Linked DNA regions of Homo sapiens: region 2 is linked to region 1. Evidence: fine-mapped expression QTL. A gene starts in region 1. The other region holds a variant in brackets. All regions are shown on one strand. Distances are from middle to middle.

What was found.
Region 2: its variant is fine-mapped to the expression of PHF19 in whole blood (TOPMed, PIP above 0.99).

Annotation. Positions count from the first base shown.
Region 1 is chr9:120,873,861-120,882,189 of GRCh38, reverse strand. PHF19 (PHD finger protein 19) reads left to right here and starts at 5,002. Exons shown (of 15, transcript NM_015651.3): 1 at 5,002-5,099; 2 at 7,434-7,634; 3 at 8,130-8,211. The coding sequence starts at 7,449. RefSeq lists enhancers at 4,203-4,252, 4,513-4,562, 5,574-6,165, 7,976-8,329 and silencers at 4,683-4,962, 5,203-5,252, 5,533-5,982.
Region 2 is chr9:120,943,817-120,952,145 of GRCh38, reverse strand. The region is part of intron 1 of C5-OT1 (C5 3' UTR overlapping transcript 1); the gene reads left to right. Among named protein-coding and RNA genes, the nearest start is that of C5-OT1, 4.8 kb to the left of the region's middle. RefSeq lists an enhancer at 7,251-7,300. The variant A/C (reference allele first, on the strand shown) is at 4,283.

The DNA of each region.
Region 1 (8,329 bases):
TCTCTATTGTGTGTGACACTGAGTTTATCACTACGCCTTTCCAAACCTCCATTTCATCCCCTGCAAAATGGACCTGATGCCTGCCACACCTGGCTCACCACGCTGTGACAAGCCTTAAAAGAGAAGGGTGGGCCAGGTGCAGTGGCACGCACCTGTAATCCCAACACTTTGGAAGGCCAAGGCTGGTGGATCATGAAGTCAGGAGTTCAAGACCAGCCTGACCAACATGGTGAAACCCAATCTCTACTAAAAATACAAAAATTAGCCAGGCGTGATAGCGTGCACCTGGAACCCCGGCTACCCAGGAGGCTGAGGCAGGAGAATTGCTTGAACCTGGGAGGCAGAGTTTGCAGTGAGCCGAGATCGTGCCACTGCACTCTGGCCTAGGCAACAGAGCAAGACTTCATCTCAAATAAACAAACAAACAAATAAGAAGGGTGATCAGTCCCATGCATGAGGGGACACTGTGCACTGTAACCACCCTGGACACCTAACAAGCAATGCTATCATCAAAACCTCCTCTGCTGCAATCTCCTCATAGCTTCCTGCCCCTCCCACCTTTAAAATCACCAAATATCTCAAACATGGAAAAGTTTTAGACTTGAGAAGGAGAAGGATCAGAGAGAACAACTATGGATCAACCACCCAGCTCTGTTACATCTTGACACTTGGTCATACTTGCCTCAGATTTTAATTTTTTTTTCTAAGAAATAAAACATACAGATAGAATTAAACCCCCTGTGGGCCAGGCACGGTGACTCACGCCTGTAATCCCAGCACTTTGGGAGGCAGAAGTGGGCGGATCACGAGGTCAGGAGATCAAGACCATCTTGGCTAACACGGTGAAAGCCCGTCTCTACTAAAAATATAAAAAATCAGCGGGGCGTGGTGGTGGGTGCCTGTAGTCCCAGCTACTCGGGAGGCTGAGGCAGGAGAAGGGCGTGAACCCGGGAGGCGGAGGTTGCAGTGAGCCGAGATCGCGCCACTGCACTCCAGCCTGGGCAACAGAGCGAGACTCTCTCAAAAAAAAAAAAAAAAAACAAACCCCCGATGTGCTTCCTTCTGATCTCATTCCTGTCCCTCCCTTCCCAAAGGTTACCCTATTCTAAATCTAGGGTCTTTGATTTCCCATGCATGTTTCAATACTTTTACTAGCTGACTGTAGCCCCAAAATGTCTACATAGCTTATTTTGTATTTCTTTGGGTTTTTTGTTGTTTGTTTGTTTGTTTTTGAGAAAGTCTCTCTCTGTCACCCAGGCTGGAGTGCAGTGGCACAATCATGGCTTACTGTGGCCTCAAACTCCTGGGCTCAATCAATCTTCCCACCTCAGTCTCCCAAGTAGCTGGGACTACAGGTGCATGCCATCATGCCCAGCTAATTTTTGTATTTTTAGTAGAGATAGGGTTTCGCCATGTTGCCCAGGCTGGTCTTGAACTCCTGGGCTCAAGCGATCTTCCCACCATAGCCTCCCAAAGCGCTGGAATACAGACTTGAGCCACGGGCCCAGCTGAATGCGTTAAGAAACATTTTTTATCATTTGTGTCACACTGTACCTATGCTACAACTTGATGTTAGTTTTTTTCCTAGGGTGTAACTATGTTGAGGCTGCAGACTTAGTTTATTTTTACTCCCAGTATATTATTCCATTGTATGACTACATCACAATTAATCTATCTGGTCTGCTGTTTGTTTGTTGAGACGGAGTCTCGCTCAGTCACTCAGGCTGGAGTGCAGTGGCACGATTTCGCTCAATGCAACCTCCACCTCCCAGGTTCAAACAATTCTCCTGTCTCAGCCTCCCAAGTAGCTGGGACTACAGGCACACGCCACCATGCCCGGCTAATTTTTGTATTTTTAGTAGAGACGGGATTTCACCATATTGATCAGGCTGGTCTCAAACTCCTGACCTCAAGTGATCCACCTGCCTTGGCCTCCCAAAGTGCTGGGATTACAGGCATGAGCCACAGTGCCTGGCCTATCTGGACTGCTGTTCATGGATAATTCATTAATTTCTAAATTTTCACAATTATGCGCTGAATGACGAGTGGAGTCATTGAATTGTAGCTATGAGTATCTTCCACTTTCTTACAAGTTGCCAAACTGTTCTCCAAAATCGTTTTACCAGTTCATATCTCCATAGGTATTTGAGGGTCCCAACTGTGCGACATCCTCACCCCCCACCCCCCTATATTGACAGACTCGACTCCGTGCCCATCTGGTGGATGTGTAATGGTGTATCACAGTTCTCTTCATTTGCGTCTCTCACGTGGCCAATAAGGTTGAGCACCTTTTCACATTTTAGGCTATTTTAGCCATTTAGGTTTCCTCTTTTGTGAGTTGCCTGTTGATATCCTTAATCCATATTTAAAAAATTGGATTGTTGGTCAGCCCATTAAACTCCCTCCACCTGGCACACCCACCTCCCTATTTCCACAACCTAACTGATTGCTACTTTTTCCGGGAAACTTGTTCTCTTTCCTCAATTCGAATTTAGAGTTGCCTCTAAATAATCACTGGTGACACCGTACCTTTCTTGTGGCATTTATAATTTCCTGTTCTGTAGTGTTTTAACTTCTTATTTTGCATATCAAACTTTTTAGTTTACAAAAGCACCTGCTCCTTCATTGTCTTATTTGAACATTTATGCAACAGCCCCACGAGATGGGTAGTATTATTACCCTCTTTTCAACCGATAAAGAAACATGGTGTAGGAGGGTCTAGCTAACCCAAGACCCCGCCCTGGCTCAGAGGCAGAGCTGGACTTGAAGCCAGGACAATTCAATTCCACGTGCAGCTCACAGCACAATCCCCTCTTATTTATCTATGCATCAACACCGCCTCCTCCACGAGGTTGCCAGTTCCTTGTCTCTCATCCACCTGTGTGTCTCCCATCCACCTGTGTGTCTCACATCCCCCCGCTCTAGTCCCACACAGTGGGGCAATCAAGATTCTGAATACAGAATTTCTTAACAAAGTATTAATACAATGATCACTTACTGCACACCTACTGGGCACCAGGGGCTTTGCATACATTAACTCTAACCTTCCCAATAACTCTATTTAGGTGAGGACACGGAGGCTTAAGACTTAAAGTCTCTGGAGCAAGAATTGTTTAAAAAAAAAAGAAAGAAAGAAGTGACACACTCAGGCTCCCATGGCCAGTAATGGGTGGAGCTGGCCTGTAGCCTCAGAGGTGAGCACTTCGCTCTATCATCTCTGTCCCCCAGCATCCTGAAGGCAGACCCAGCCAGCTTAGAAGCTAGTGGGAGTGTTCTGCTCCCATCATCAGCCCTACCCGCGTTGGACACACCTTCTCTTGGCAGAACATGGTTAAGTAGCACAATCCTAGGGCCCCTTTGGGACTTGAAAATGTGCTCTCCAGGATTGGGAGATTTTGTGCCATGGGGCTGCTCCCAGGCTTTCCTTCCAGGTTCAGGCAGGTACTCAGCAGTGCTAGGTTCTGCTGAGGCGCCAGGATCCAGAATGGGGCAGTGAGGCAGGTGAGAGCAGGGGGATCAAGGGGCAGAAGGAAGTGAGGAAGGAGGTGAAAGGACTCCTGGATCTCTGCTGAGAAGGTGAGGTGGGGGGCTGCACAGATCATGCTCCAAGGCCAGGAGGCAGAGGGCCCAGAGTGAGCAACTGACAGTGAACAGGGAAGGCTCTGGGGGAAGGTGCTGTCCACTGGCCACACCCATGAAAGCACATATCCCTGTCTGGTGGGGGTGTCTGCAGAGTGGGATGGTAGCCACAGAGGTGGGCGCTGTGGACTGAGGGCAAGGATGGGGGTGGGGTTATTGGTAAGTGTTCTTCCTCCCTTCCCCCAAGAGTGAGTCTGGGTGGGGCCATGTCTGCCTTTCCCCCACAGGGCAGGGTCCCTATGATTGGAGCTCTGCCCACTGACTCCATCTGCCATTCCTATGACTCTGTGCATGTTGTCTTTCATTGTGTGCCCTTTATTTACATGACATGTTGTGCGTGTGGTATATATTTGCGATTGTACCATGTATTTCTGTGCACTGTGTCTCTACGCAATTTGTTGTTTGGGGCTATTTCGGCCATGTAGGTTTCCTCTTTTGTGAATTGCCTTTTGATATCCTTAACCCGTATTTTAAAAATTGCATTGTTAGCCCACTGAATTCCCTCCACCTGGCACACCCACTAACCTATTTCCACAACCTATCTGAATGCCACTTTTTCAGGAAAACTTGTGTCTCTTGCCCGTCTGTGTTGTGACTTTATGTGTTATGTCCGTCTACCTTACATGCATGTTCTGTTGTGTGTCTCTGTTGTGTACAGTGTGTTCCCCCTTGTGTATCTATGCCTATGGCTGGTGTGTACAGTACTTCTCTTTGTGGTGTGTTTGTGTCCTGTACATGCTGTGGTGTGTTCTGACCTGTGTCGGAACAACATGCGTTGTGCACTGTGTGTTGTGTATCTACATTATACTTGTGCTGTGTCTCTGTGCCGAACGCCTGTGCTGTTAGTGCAAGGTGTTGTGTGGCCTGTTTGGGCGTCCTGGGTCTGTGTCTGCGCCAAGGGTCCGCGCCGCCCTGCTGTGTGTCTGTGCCAGGGTCCGCCGGTGCCTGCGCGCAGAGCTGTGTTTCCTCAACAAGTGTGCGAGCGGTCGTGTGCGCCATGAGCGCTGCCTGGCGTCTCCGTGTGCGCCGCGGTGTGGCCGCTCCTCGGCGGGGGGCCCGGGTCCTGGCTAGTGGCCGCGGAGGATGCGCGCCCGCGGGGCGGGCGGGGGCGGGCGGGGGCTGGCGGCGCTGCGGAGCCCGGCGGCCGCGGGCTCCAATGGCGAGGCCGGCGCGGCCCCCGCTAATTACATAAGCGGGACGTCAATAATTCGCGGGAAAACGCGAAAAAGATGGCGCCCCGCGCCCGGGGGGCCCCTTCCTGAGCGCCCCGGCCCCTCCCTCCGCCGCCTCCCCCTCCTCCCCGCGGCGCCCCCGCCCCGCCCCGCCCCCGCCGAGACCCCGACCCCGGCCCCACGGGCGGACACTCGGCCGGGCAGCCGCGGGCCGAGCGCAGCCGCCTCCGCCACCGATGCGCCTGGTGGCCAGACTCCAAGTGGGACCGGCGGACACGCAGCCTCGCGGTGAGTTCTGCGCTGTTGGGCGGACTCCCCGCCACGCTCTCCCCTCCCGGCCCTCATCCCTCTCTTTTCGAAATCTCCCTGAACTTTGGCGGCCCGAACGCCTCCGGGGGGTGAGACTCCTGCGGAGCGGGGCTCTCGGGGGTGGGGACCGGGGGTGCAGGTTACCTGCGGGGCAGAGGGGCCCCACCCGGGTTCCCGAGCCCCGGGGGGCATGGGTGACAGGTCGTTCTTCCTCGCCCCCGATCTTTAATTTTCCTATCGGGGTGGGGGAAGGACAGACGGGCGTTTGGCATTTCGCTCACGTCCGAAGTCAGGCTGCGGCAGGGTTGGGATGGGGGAGGCTTGGCGTCCGAGCGACTGAGGAGAGGAGCGCTGAACCCGAAGGGGGTGCTTCTGCAAGCTTTTTCCCCCCTCCTGAACATCCTTTTTAAAAAGCCAACGGCCGCCCTGGGAGAGGCCCCGGCGCATGAATCATCCTCGCTTCCTGCCCCCGCCCGGCCCCGCGCTCCCGGTGCCGCGGATTTGAACTGGACGCAGACGGGAACCCGCAAACAGGCATTTCTTTGCAAATGGGTTTGAATCAGCCAATCACAGCCCGCGGGGGCCCGCTCCGGGAGGACGGAGGCGGGGGCTGGGGGGGCGCCACCCGGGGGCCCCCGCCCGGCCAGGGTGGAGGCGGGTGCGGCGACCCGGCCGGCTCCTAGAGGCGCAGCGGGAGAGGAAGTGTCAGTTTGTGAACCTGCAGCGGCCCCGGCCTGGCCCCTGGCCGGGCGGGCGGGGACCTCGCAGCGCCGGGCGAGCCAGGTGGCAGGGAGAGGACAGGGATTCAGACCGCATCCCCTGCCCGGGAGCCTGTGCGCTCTGCGCTGGAGAAAAAGGAGATGGGAGTGGGGGTGGAGAAGGTCGTGGCCACGCCACCATCTGGGGAGCCGAGACCCCTGCAGTGCCTGGCTCGCCCCAGGGCCCCGCACATACTTAGCTTCACACACTCCCTGGCACAATGCCGTAGACATCATCCTGCCCAGTCTCACAGGAGTACACACACGCACCACACAGAAACAGGCACTGGACTCTCTCCCTGTGAACAGATAGTCACAACACCAGGTGCCCAGCGCCATGGCCACAAGGAGGAGACCCGAGTAGGCCCGCGGGGAAAGAGAGAGGCTGTGTGTGGCTGTAGTGGAGAGCATGTGGAGGGACTTGGAGCCAGGTGAGCCCAGCAGAAAGGAGGGGGCGTTAGGGACGGCTTTGAGCACCAGTGAGGGCAGTGGGGAGCCCCAGAAAGTTTCTGGAAGGAAATTGGTGGCCCTGCGGAAGAGTCTGGTGGAGAGGCAGGAATGCAGGAACGGCCTGTTTAGCACTGGGTGCTGGTAGTACCGTTCCCCACCCTAGGTGCCTAGTGGAGGTAAGCACAAGGCCCAGGAAACTGTTATTGGGTGAATGAATGAATGAATGAATGGCCCAAGCAAAAGATGAGGCCTGAACTGAGACCAGGGCAGGAGGATGGAAGCTAGAGCTGGAAAGCCAGAAATCATGGCACTTAAAATGGGCCGGCTGTGGCAACTAATTGCTTGGAGGAGTTTGAGATGCATGAAGGCAGTACCACAGGCAGGGAGAGAGAAATCGATGGGTGAACTGCACGTTGAATAGGATGGTGAGAGACAGGCGTGGAGAGGCTGGCATGGGGATGGATGACTTCACTGCTTGGAGCAAATGTGTATCTGGGTGAAAGCATAAGTGGGTTTAAATGTCCCAGAATTGGTTTCCATTAAATCATCTCATAATTGAGAACAGAAGGGGGGATTACAAAAGACAGATGACCCAGTCTACACTAGCTACAAGCCACCCAGTTTTCCTTTCTAGGTGAATTTTCTCTGGACAGATCTCAGGTTAGGGATGGTTGCAGGGGTTGGGGGTAAAAACAAAACCCAACTGCTTGCCTGGAGAAGATCCTCCATCCAGAGCACATGGACTGTGTTTGCTTAAGGAATAAAACCTCAGCCTCCTGAGACAGGGAGTGGTTCAGGCCCGCTGGGTAGGGGACTTTGTTCTGTGTGGGTTGAGAGATCCATTCTCTTTAAAAGGTAGTGTGGTATGGGCCATGGCTCTGCCTTTGGCCCATCAGCCTCTTCTCCTTGCCACACCTGTTTCCCTATCTGTAAGATGTGAATAATAATAATGTCTCCCTCATAGGATGGTCACGAGGAATCAGTGAGATAATAACCAAGTCTGGCTTATAGCACAGGGTACAGAAATGGTGGTTTCCTTCCTTCCCCTGATGGGCTTTCTGAAGCAGGGAAGCAAGAAGCAAAAACCCTGTTCTTTCTCTCCCAGTGTCAGGGGAAGCTGATGGAGAATCGAGCTCTGGATCCAGGGACTCGGGACTCCTATGGTGCCACCAGCCACCTCCCCAACAAGGGGGCCCTGGCGAAGGTCAAGAACAACTTCAAAGACTTGATGTCCAAACTGACGGAGGGCCAGTATGTGCTGTGCCGGTGGACAGATGGCCTGTACTACCTCGGGAAGATCAAGAGGGTAAACCCATCCTCTCTGGCCCCTGTTCTCAGACTCAGAATCTCTCTGCTCATGTTCCAGCCTGGCTGTCAGACCAGGGGGCAGGGGGATTGCTGGAGAATTCCCTTCTTGTCCCTCATGCCCAAAGCTGGTGGTGGGAGGGGCCAGAGCCTGGTCTTGCAGGCACCATCCCTAGGGTCAACATCATCCAACTAGTTCTTTAGAAAAGTGCTCTGAGAGCCTACAAAACAAAAAAGTCAGGTTTGAGAGGATCACAGAGGAGCATCTGACTTGTGCTTCTGTCCTCAACATTCTGACCAAGTTGCCATCCATCGGTCCCTGGCTGTACGACTCCAGGTGACTAGGAGTACACCCTGTCCAGGAACTGCCATCCTTCTTCCCCTTCTAGCCCTGCTTTCTGGAACATACGGAGACAAAAATGGGGGAGGAAGACTATGTTCCAGGTTGGCTTTTCCCCAGCCCTTTCTCACTTGCTCCTTCCTATCTGTACCCCAGGTCAGCAGCTCTAAGCAAAGCTGCCTCGTGACTTTCGAAGATAATTCCAAATACTGGGTCCTATGGAAGGACATACAGCATGGTGAGTTTTCCTAACATTTCGGGTAGCCCCCAACCTCCCCAGGTCTTCTCTCCTCTGCTGCCTTCATTTCTTCCTTCTGTCCTTCCATCTCTTACTCCTGGCATCTGCCCTTGACCAT
Region 2 (8,329 bases), 70 kb before region 1:
TACCCCTGAAGGGAGACCCTCTACTCTCTTTCCCTCCCTTCCGGCACATGTTCATTTCCCCCAGGAACCTGCTCTCGCCAACAATTGCTTTACTAAAAGACAGGCCCCAGTGCAGCAACCTGGTGAAAAGAAACTGAGTGGCGGATCGGGAGACCTTTCTCCAGCCCTAACCAGGTCTCTCTCTGAGCCTCAATTTGAGCTTTATAAAAGAGGATACATAACAGAAGTTAATTTTTAAGTGACATTTTGCAGCACTTCAGATCATATTAAAAAGCTCTCGCATATATTCTCATTTAATGTCTCAAGCCTCTCACAAGATTCAGAAATTATTATCATTATCATCCCCATCTTACAGATAAGAAAATTGAGATTTAGGCCTGGCATGGTGGCTCAAGCCTGTAATCCCAGCACTTTGGGAGGCCAAGGCGGGCAGATCACTTGAGGTCAGGAGTTCGAGACCAGCCTGGCCAACATAGTGAAACCCCATCTCTACTAAAAATATAAAAATTAGCCAGGCTAATTTAGCAAGCCTGTAATCCCAGGTACTCAGTAGGCTGAGGCAGGAGGATCACTTGAACCCAGGAAGTGGACGTTGCAGTGAGCCGAGATCATGCCACTGCATTCCAGCCTAGGTGACAGAGTGAGACTCCATCTCAAAAAAGAAAAAAGAAAAAGAAAAGAAAATTGAGGTTCAGAAAAGTAAAGCAGTTTTCCCAACCTAGTAAGGAAAAGAATTGGAAATCAAACCCCAAGACTCTATCTCAGTTTAAATACATCTCTGTTCCACATCACTACATATTGCTTGTTGGGTTGAATTTTCTAACAGTAAGGCAGGATATAGTAGAAGTTTCTTAGACACAGATTAACCAGCCCCACTGAACTATCACAGGAAACATGAAGATGACCTCCGGATGTAACGGTAATTAACAGAGACTGGAATGCATCTCCTTTTGAAGAGTCTGCTTTTTACTAGTTAGGTGAAGCTACACAAGGCCTTGTAGTGTGCCTTTGTAAATAACACTAAGATTTTCCACTTCCAGGGACTAAGGACTTATTTTTCTCTAATGTCAAAGCTCACATTGTAGGCACTCCCTTGGCAAAAACAACCAATGTGTCATGTTCAAGATGCCCACACTCCCTGTCAGCGAGGGGTGAGGAGACCTTCTCCAGAGCAGGCCTCTCGGTGTCTCCTGTCACTTCCTTGCTGGGAGGAGGGAACCACTGGTGCTGCTTCGAAGGCACAGGAGTCTGACTGCCTTTTCCTGAGCACTTTGGCAAATAGGGCAGGCCACAGTGGCCTAATTAACCCACAATGCAGCTGTCAAATATCAAAGAAGGTTTTGTGAATTAGCCTGGCACCATTTAAAATATCTGCCAGCTCCTCTTCAGCTAACTCCTATGCATTTGAACATATTTTCTCAGTGAGGCTTTTGTGACCCTCCAAACCAGGCTGGGCCCATTACCCAACCCTGCACTTCTCCTCCAAGGCACTTGTGCTCTTGCAATGATTTACTTAATCAGATTGAATTATTAGTTTAGCGTGACCACACTGAAAGCTCCACTTAGGTAAGGTCTGAGTCTGTTCTATTCGCCAGTATCTCCTGTAGTTGGCACAATGTCGGGCACATCATAGGGACTCAATAAGTGTTTGTGGATTCCCCTACAGTGTAGAGAATCAGAAGACCCAAGTTCTAGTCTTGGCTTTGGCCCTAATTGGCAGTGATTTGGGACAAGCCTCTTAATCTCTTTGATAGCCTATAAAATAAGGGAATTGGACACTCTAATGTCTCTTTTATCTATAGCTAAGAAGATGTTCTATAATCTTATGATGTGAAACAGGAAAAACCAAACGGCATATAAGCATCCAAATATTGGGCTTATGTATTTCATTCTTTCTTTCTCTCTTTTTTTTTTTTTTTTTTTTTTGAGACACAGTTTTGCTCTTGTTGCCCAGGCTGGAGTGCAATGGCGCAATCTCGGCTCACTGCAACCTCCGCCTCCCGGGTTCAAGCAATTCTCCTGCCTCAGCCTTCCAAGTAGCTAGGATTACAGACATGTGCCACCACACCCAGCTAATTTTTTGTATTTAGTACAGATAGGTTTTCGCCATGTTGGTCAGGCTGGTCTCGAACGCCTGACCTCAGGTGATCTACCTCCCTTGGCCTCCCAAAGTGCCGGGATTACAGGCGTGAGCCACTATGGCCGGCCTGGGCTTACATATTTTGTCTGTAAGTATGGAGACAGTGCAGAGAAGTAAGCTGGAAGAGCTGCCAAGGCTTTCTGTAGAAGGACACTGGGATTTGGGTAGGTGGGAGGTACAGGGAAGGCCTTTCTGGTTAAGGGGCAACGCTTAAGGCAGGTTTCCCCAGGGGTAAGCAAGATGTTCTTAGGTGATACGATGCACATTGTTCACTTTAGTGGCTATATGTTTATTTTAACATGTATTTTAAAAAAGTAATTAGCACATCAAAGCCATGATGTAACATTTTCTTCCAAAATAAATCTATTTTCCAAGAAGTAAGTCTATTTAAGAAAAAGTATTGAGTAAATAAAAGTAAGTTTATTCTTAGGGCAAAAATCATGCAGTTGGCATGCAAATGATTGACGTTTAAGATACTCTGTCTTAAGAAAACACGTGGAGGTCTGTGAGCCAAGGTTGAGGCAAGCAGCCTTGCTCCATATTTCTCAGTGAGAAATTCTGGACCAAAGTCATGTTTAGTCTTTCTTTCCAGACCCTATGATGCTGATGTATTCAGCAACACCCAACAAACATGTATTGATTGGTGACTGCAGGCTAGGCCCAATTCTAGGTGCTTGGTACCAAGATCCCTGCCATTGTGGAACATAGATTCCAACTGGGAGAGATATGTAATAAAAAATAAAGAGAATAATTAAGCAATTAGTCTTGGATCTCAGAAAGTGATAAGAGCAATGGGAAAAAGAAAAAGCAGACTAAAGGAGACTGGTAATGGTCAGGGGAGGGGTTGCAGTTCTAAATAGGGTGGCCAGGTCAGGGTGGGCTTCAATGAGAAGGTGAAATTTGAGCAAAGACTTGAAGGATGTGAAAGAGTGAGCCACATAGCTAGCCAAGGGGAGAGTGTTCCTGGCACTCTTGGTACATAGTGTCCGGCCTAAGGCAGGAGCATGCTGGTGTGTCACAGGAAAAGCAAGGAAGCAGGGGTGGCAGGTGCAGATTATGAAGCCAATGGAAGAGGCTTTGGCTTTACTTGGAAGGAAACAGGAGCCATTGCAAGGCTTTGAAAAGAAGAGTGACATGGTCTGTCTTGCCTTTTTAAAGGACTACTGTAACTGCTGTTGAAAATAAGGCAAGGGTAAAGAGAACGGATAGGAGGCTACTGTAATAAACTAGGTGAGGGATGATGGTGCCTCAGACCAGAGTGGTAGCAGTGGAGGTATTGAAAAGTGGTTGAATTCTGGATATACTTTAAAAGTAAATGATACAGTTTGGATATTTGTCCCCCAAAATCACATGTTGAAATGTGATCCCCAGTGTTGGAAGTGAGGCGAGGTGGAAGATGTTTGGGCCATGGGAGTGGATCCCTCGTGAATGGCTTGGTGCCCTCCCCATGGTAATGAGAGTTCTTACTCTGTGAGTTACCACGAGATCTGATTGTTTATAAAGAGCCTGGCACCTCCTTCTAGCTGGTTGCTTCCTCTCTCACCATGTGCCACTTAGGCTCTTTTTTCCCTTCTACCATGACTGTAAGCTTCCTGAGGCCTCACCAGAAGCAGATGCTGGCACCATGCTTCCCGTATAGCCTGCAGAACCGTGCGCCAAACAAATCTCTTTTCTTTATAAATTATGCAGCCTCAGGTATTCCTTTATAGCAATACAAAAGGGACTAATACAGTAGGCTTAATTGAAGGGACTAATATTGTAGGTTTAACTGAATTCCCTGATAGAGTGGAAATAAGTGTGAGAGAAAGAAAGGAGTCAAGGATGATGCCAAGACTTTTGGCCTGAACAACTGGAAAGATGGAGTTGCCTGAGATTAGGAAGGCTGCAGATGGAGCAGGTTGTGGGGAGTTAGGAATCTGTTCAGTTTTGGATGTGTTGAATTTTAGAAGAAATCTATTAAACATCCAAGTGAAGGAGCCTGGAAGGCAATTGGTCATATAGTTATCTAGTTCAGGAGAGAGCTCTGGGCTGAAAAACATAAATCTGAGAATCATCAGCATACTAAAACCATTAGACTAGTTAAGATCACTAAGGATGTGAATACAGACAGAGGAGTGGAAAAAAAGAAGACCAAGGATAGAC[A/C]TTTTGAGCATTCCAAGATGAAGTTATTAGAGAAAAGAGATAGAGGATCCATTGAATTAGGAGAAAAAACAAGAGATGAGGTCCCCTCAAGCCAAACAAAAGAAAGAGGTTCTGGGAGGAAGAGTGTTGAACTGTATCAAATGCTTCAGAGAGAAGTAAGATGAAGACTTGGCTGTTGGGTTTAGCATTGGTGACTTTGACAGGGCAGGTTGGGTGGAGTAGTGGGAAGAATAGCCTGAATAGAGTGATTTAAGAGTAGATAGGAGGAGAGGATTTGGAGACAGGGAGTATGGACAACTCATTCAAGGAGCAAAGAAATGGATTGAGGGGAGTAGAGTGAAGGAAAGTTTAAGACGGAAGAAATAACACATTTGTGTTCTAAAGGGAATGACTCAGTAAAGAGTAAATAATTGACGATGCAGGAGAGAGAAAGGAGAACTACTAGAGTAATGTCCTTGAAGAGGTAAGAGTGGATAGGATCTGGAGCACAAGTGGAGGACTTGGCTTTAAATAAGAACATGACTAGCTCACCTATGCCAGGGGTCAGCAAACTTCTGTAAAGAGCCATGCATTAAAATAACTGTAATATTTTAGGCTTTGTGGGCCATAATTCTCATAAGTCTCTATTGCAACTGCTCAACTCTCTCATTGTAGCACAAATGCAGCCATAGATAATGCAGAAAAGAATGGGCATGGACTAGGCAGGCTGGATTTAGCCCTTGGGCAGCAGCATACCGATCCCTGATCCATGACCCATGGTTGTAGGCAGAGAAGCTGAGCACATGCAGCAGACGCTGGCAAGGGGTAGATGTGGTGAGAGTCTGTGGAAGTCCCTTTCTCAGAGAAGTAGGATGAAGATCATCACCTGAGATGGAGGATAGGGAGGAGCAATTGGAGGTGTGACGGGAGGAAAGAAGGGTGAGACAGTTATCTAAAAGAGAGGGAGGCTGAACCAACTAAGGACTTGTAATATATTTGCTTCTTCGTATTAAGGGTCCACTTGAAGTTTCTAGTCATGAATTTAAAGTGGGACTGATCAGCATGGGTTGTGGGATTTTCTCCAGCCACATACACATCCTTTTCAGAATCTAATGAAAGCTATAGACTTATCAATTCCCTCCAATCAAGACAACCAGGAATACCTGGAACTGAACAAGTTTCAGTTTATTGAGTCTTTGCAACAAGGGAGAACACACACCATGGGGACCATAAGGCTTCTCGGTGAGAGTGCATTAGAAAAGCCTTATTATAGGATTTGTACTTGTGATAGAGTATTTGGGAGGAGCCTCAAAGAAATGGAACTTTACTCTGGATTGGATGCTTTCAGGAAGCAGGGGCAATCCTATGACCCAGTATCTTATTTCTTTTCTAGCTGGGAGGAAAAGTAGCAGCACTTACTCACTTTAGCCAGGAAAAGGGTGTGTGTGGTCATTTTTGTGGTTTGGACAATGTTCTTGTTTTTATATCCTGCTCAAACATGATTATAGAGTAGTCGTTTTTAGTATGGATCCATTTTGTCTGATGTTGATGTTCTATGACATCAGACACAGAGAACACCCCAGCCTGGCTCTGGGCACCAGACTGGCTCCCAGGGACACCGAGGCCTCACGCCAGTTGTCCAGGGCCACTCTTCTCTTTCACAGACCCCTGTCCCAGAAACATGCACATACACACACCATGCTCACAGCCTCATACCTGACAGAGGCCCCCCGCCACCAAAATTCCACTCCTTCTCTGTTTCCATCATTATAGTCAGATATGTGTATGTTACATGCACAGTCATGAATTATACAAATCTAAAATGCCCACACCAGAAAGGACCTAGAGCTCATCTCATCCGATTCCTTCATTTTTTGCCTGTGAACATGGAGGTCCAGAGGAGCAGCTTGTCTAGGATTATGGTGCTGATAAATGGAAAGGCCAGGACAGAAGCCCAAGTGAGGCCTCTGAACACCGCATTCTTCCCACCACTGAGATGAGCAGGAGTTACAGAGACACCAGTTTTGGCTCCCTGTGAAGAAGCATTTTCTTATAGCCATAGCCATTCAAAAGTAGAGTCAGGTCCAAGTTCCTTATTGCTGGGGCCATCTGAGCAGAGTCTAGCTGCCACCTTCCAGGGATGTTTCTGGGCAATTCAAGGTAGGGGGCTTAATGTCCCTTCAGTGCTGAGAGACTTTTAATAGTCAAGAAAACATCTACTTGACTGCTTTAATAAAAAGGTGAAGTTTTCACATCTGAAAAACAGAAGTACTAATAATACCCAAGTCAGAGGATTTCTGCAAGGCTCAAATGAGATAATACAGATAATGCACATAAAATGATTAGCACAGTGCCTGGCACAATAAAAGTAACTTGTGGCTGGGTAATAATACCTCTCTGGCACACTAGAGGTGGTAAATTCAATAATTTTTTACCTGTGAACATCCTACTTAGATTCATAAAATATTGACATTTAAAGATCCTCTAGAGATCATCTCATCAATGCCTCCCCATTTCACAGACCAGGAAGCAGGCCCAGGGAGGAGCCAGGACTCACCAAGAGGGTTCCACAACAGAGCTGGGGCTAGAACCCGCAGCACCAGGCTCCTCTGCCTTCCTATATGCAGCCTGGTGTCTCCTCAGGGCCTAATAGAAACATTGCCTGCAGGGGCAAGCAGAGACCCGAGCCTGGTGGTGAGGGCCAGGGCTAACATGTCTAACAGATGAGTTGGGAGCAATCAGAGGGTTTTGGTGTTGTTGTTGTTAGGCTGGAGGGGTGTGTGTGTGTGTGTGTGTGTGTGTGTTGGTGTTGGAAGGGTGGTCGGTGGGAGGGGGGTTGAAACTGAATGAGACAAGAGAAATTGGAGTTAAGGAAAGGATTGTTTGGCTTAATAATATATTTTCCAAATAAAGAACCTTTAGGAAATTAGAGCCAGGACTAGACTGTAATTCTCTGAGGGCAAAGGAAGAGGAAGGGAAAGGAGATATGCTTAGAGTTGGAGGAGAAGGCAGAAAGGTTTCCTGAGTCTGTTAGGGCCTTGGGGCAAGGCTGGTCGTCATTCATCCTCTTCTTGCCTCCTCCTTTCACCTCTAAAGGCGAAAGGCCAAACTGTGGTCTGTTCATTAAATAAATGCTGGGTGTCGAAATTAAAATGGCTCACTGATTTGGCTATGTTGTGTGTGTGTGACTGACAGACAGAGAGAGAAAGGAGGAGTTAGTATGGGGAAGTGATACAGTGAAGAAGTAAGACATTGAACCATGAAACAGAGGAGCTGCCCTGACTTGTGGCCTTGGGAGAGTTCCTGAACCTCATCAAGTCTCAATTTGCCCATCTAGAAAGCGGAAGTAACATTATCAGCCCTAATGGGTTATAATGATTAGGAAAAACACCTTAGTGCCAACTCAGGAGCCCACAATCTGTGGCAGTCAGCTGGAGTGTGATTTCCAGCTGTCTTAACTCTCTAGGCCTCAGTTCTATCTTTTAAAAATAATGAAAGAATTTCCCCCAACCCAATTTACAGATTTGTTGCAAGGATGAAATAAGATCCAACAAGTGAGAGAAATTTTAAAATGTAGAATCTTGCACAAATATAAACATAGCATTAAAAACAAAAAGCATCTTTGTGCTAAGATACCATAGACAGAGACTGCCTGGTGTGCTTTTTTAAAAATTGGGAAAAGACCACTATCTTAAAAAACAACCTCCTCCAGTGCCTCGAATTTTCCCATTTGCCTTCCTCTTTTGGTCCTCAGGACTGTCAGCCTTAGAACAATGCTATACAAAGTGTGGTCCCTGGCCGCCTGGGAGTTTGTCAGGAATGCAAATTCCCAGACCCCACCCCAGACCTACTGAAACAGAAAATCTTGGGAGCAGAGCTCGGAGATCTATATTTTAATAAGATATCCAGGCCTGGCGTGGTGGCTCACGCCTGTAATCCCAGCACTTTGGGAGGCCGAGGCAGGTGGATCACGAGGTCAGGAGATCGAGTCCATTCTTGCTAACTCGGTGAAACCACGTCTCTACTAAAAATACAAAAAAATAGCCGGGCGTGGTGGCGGGTGCCTAT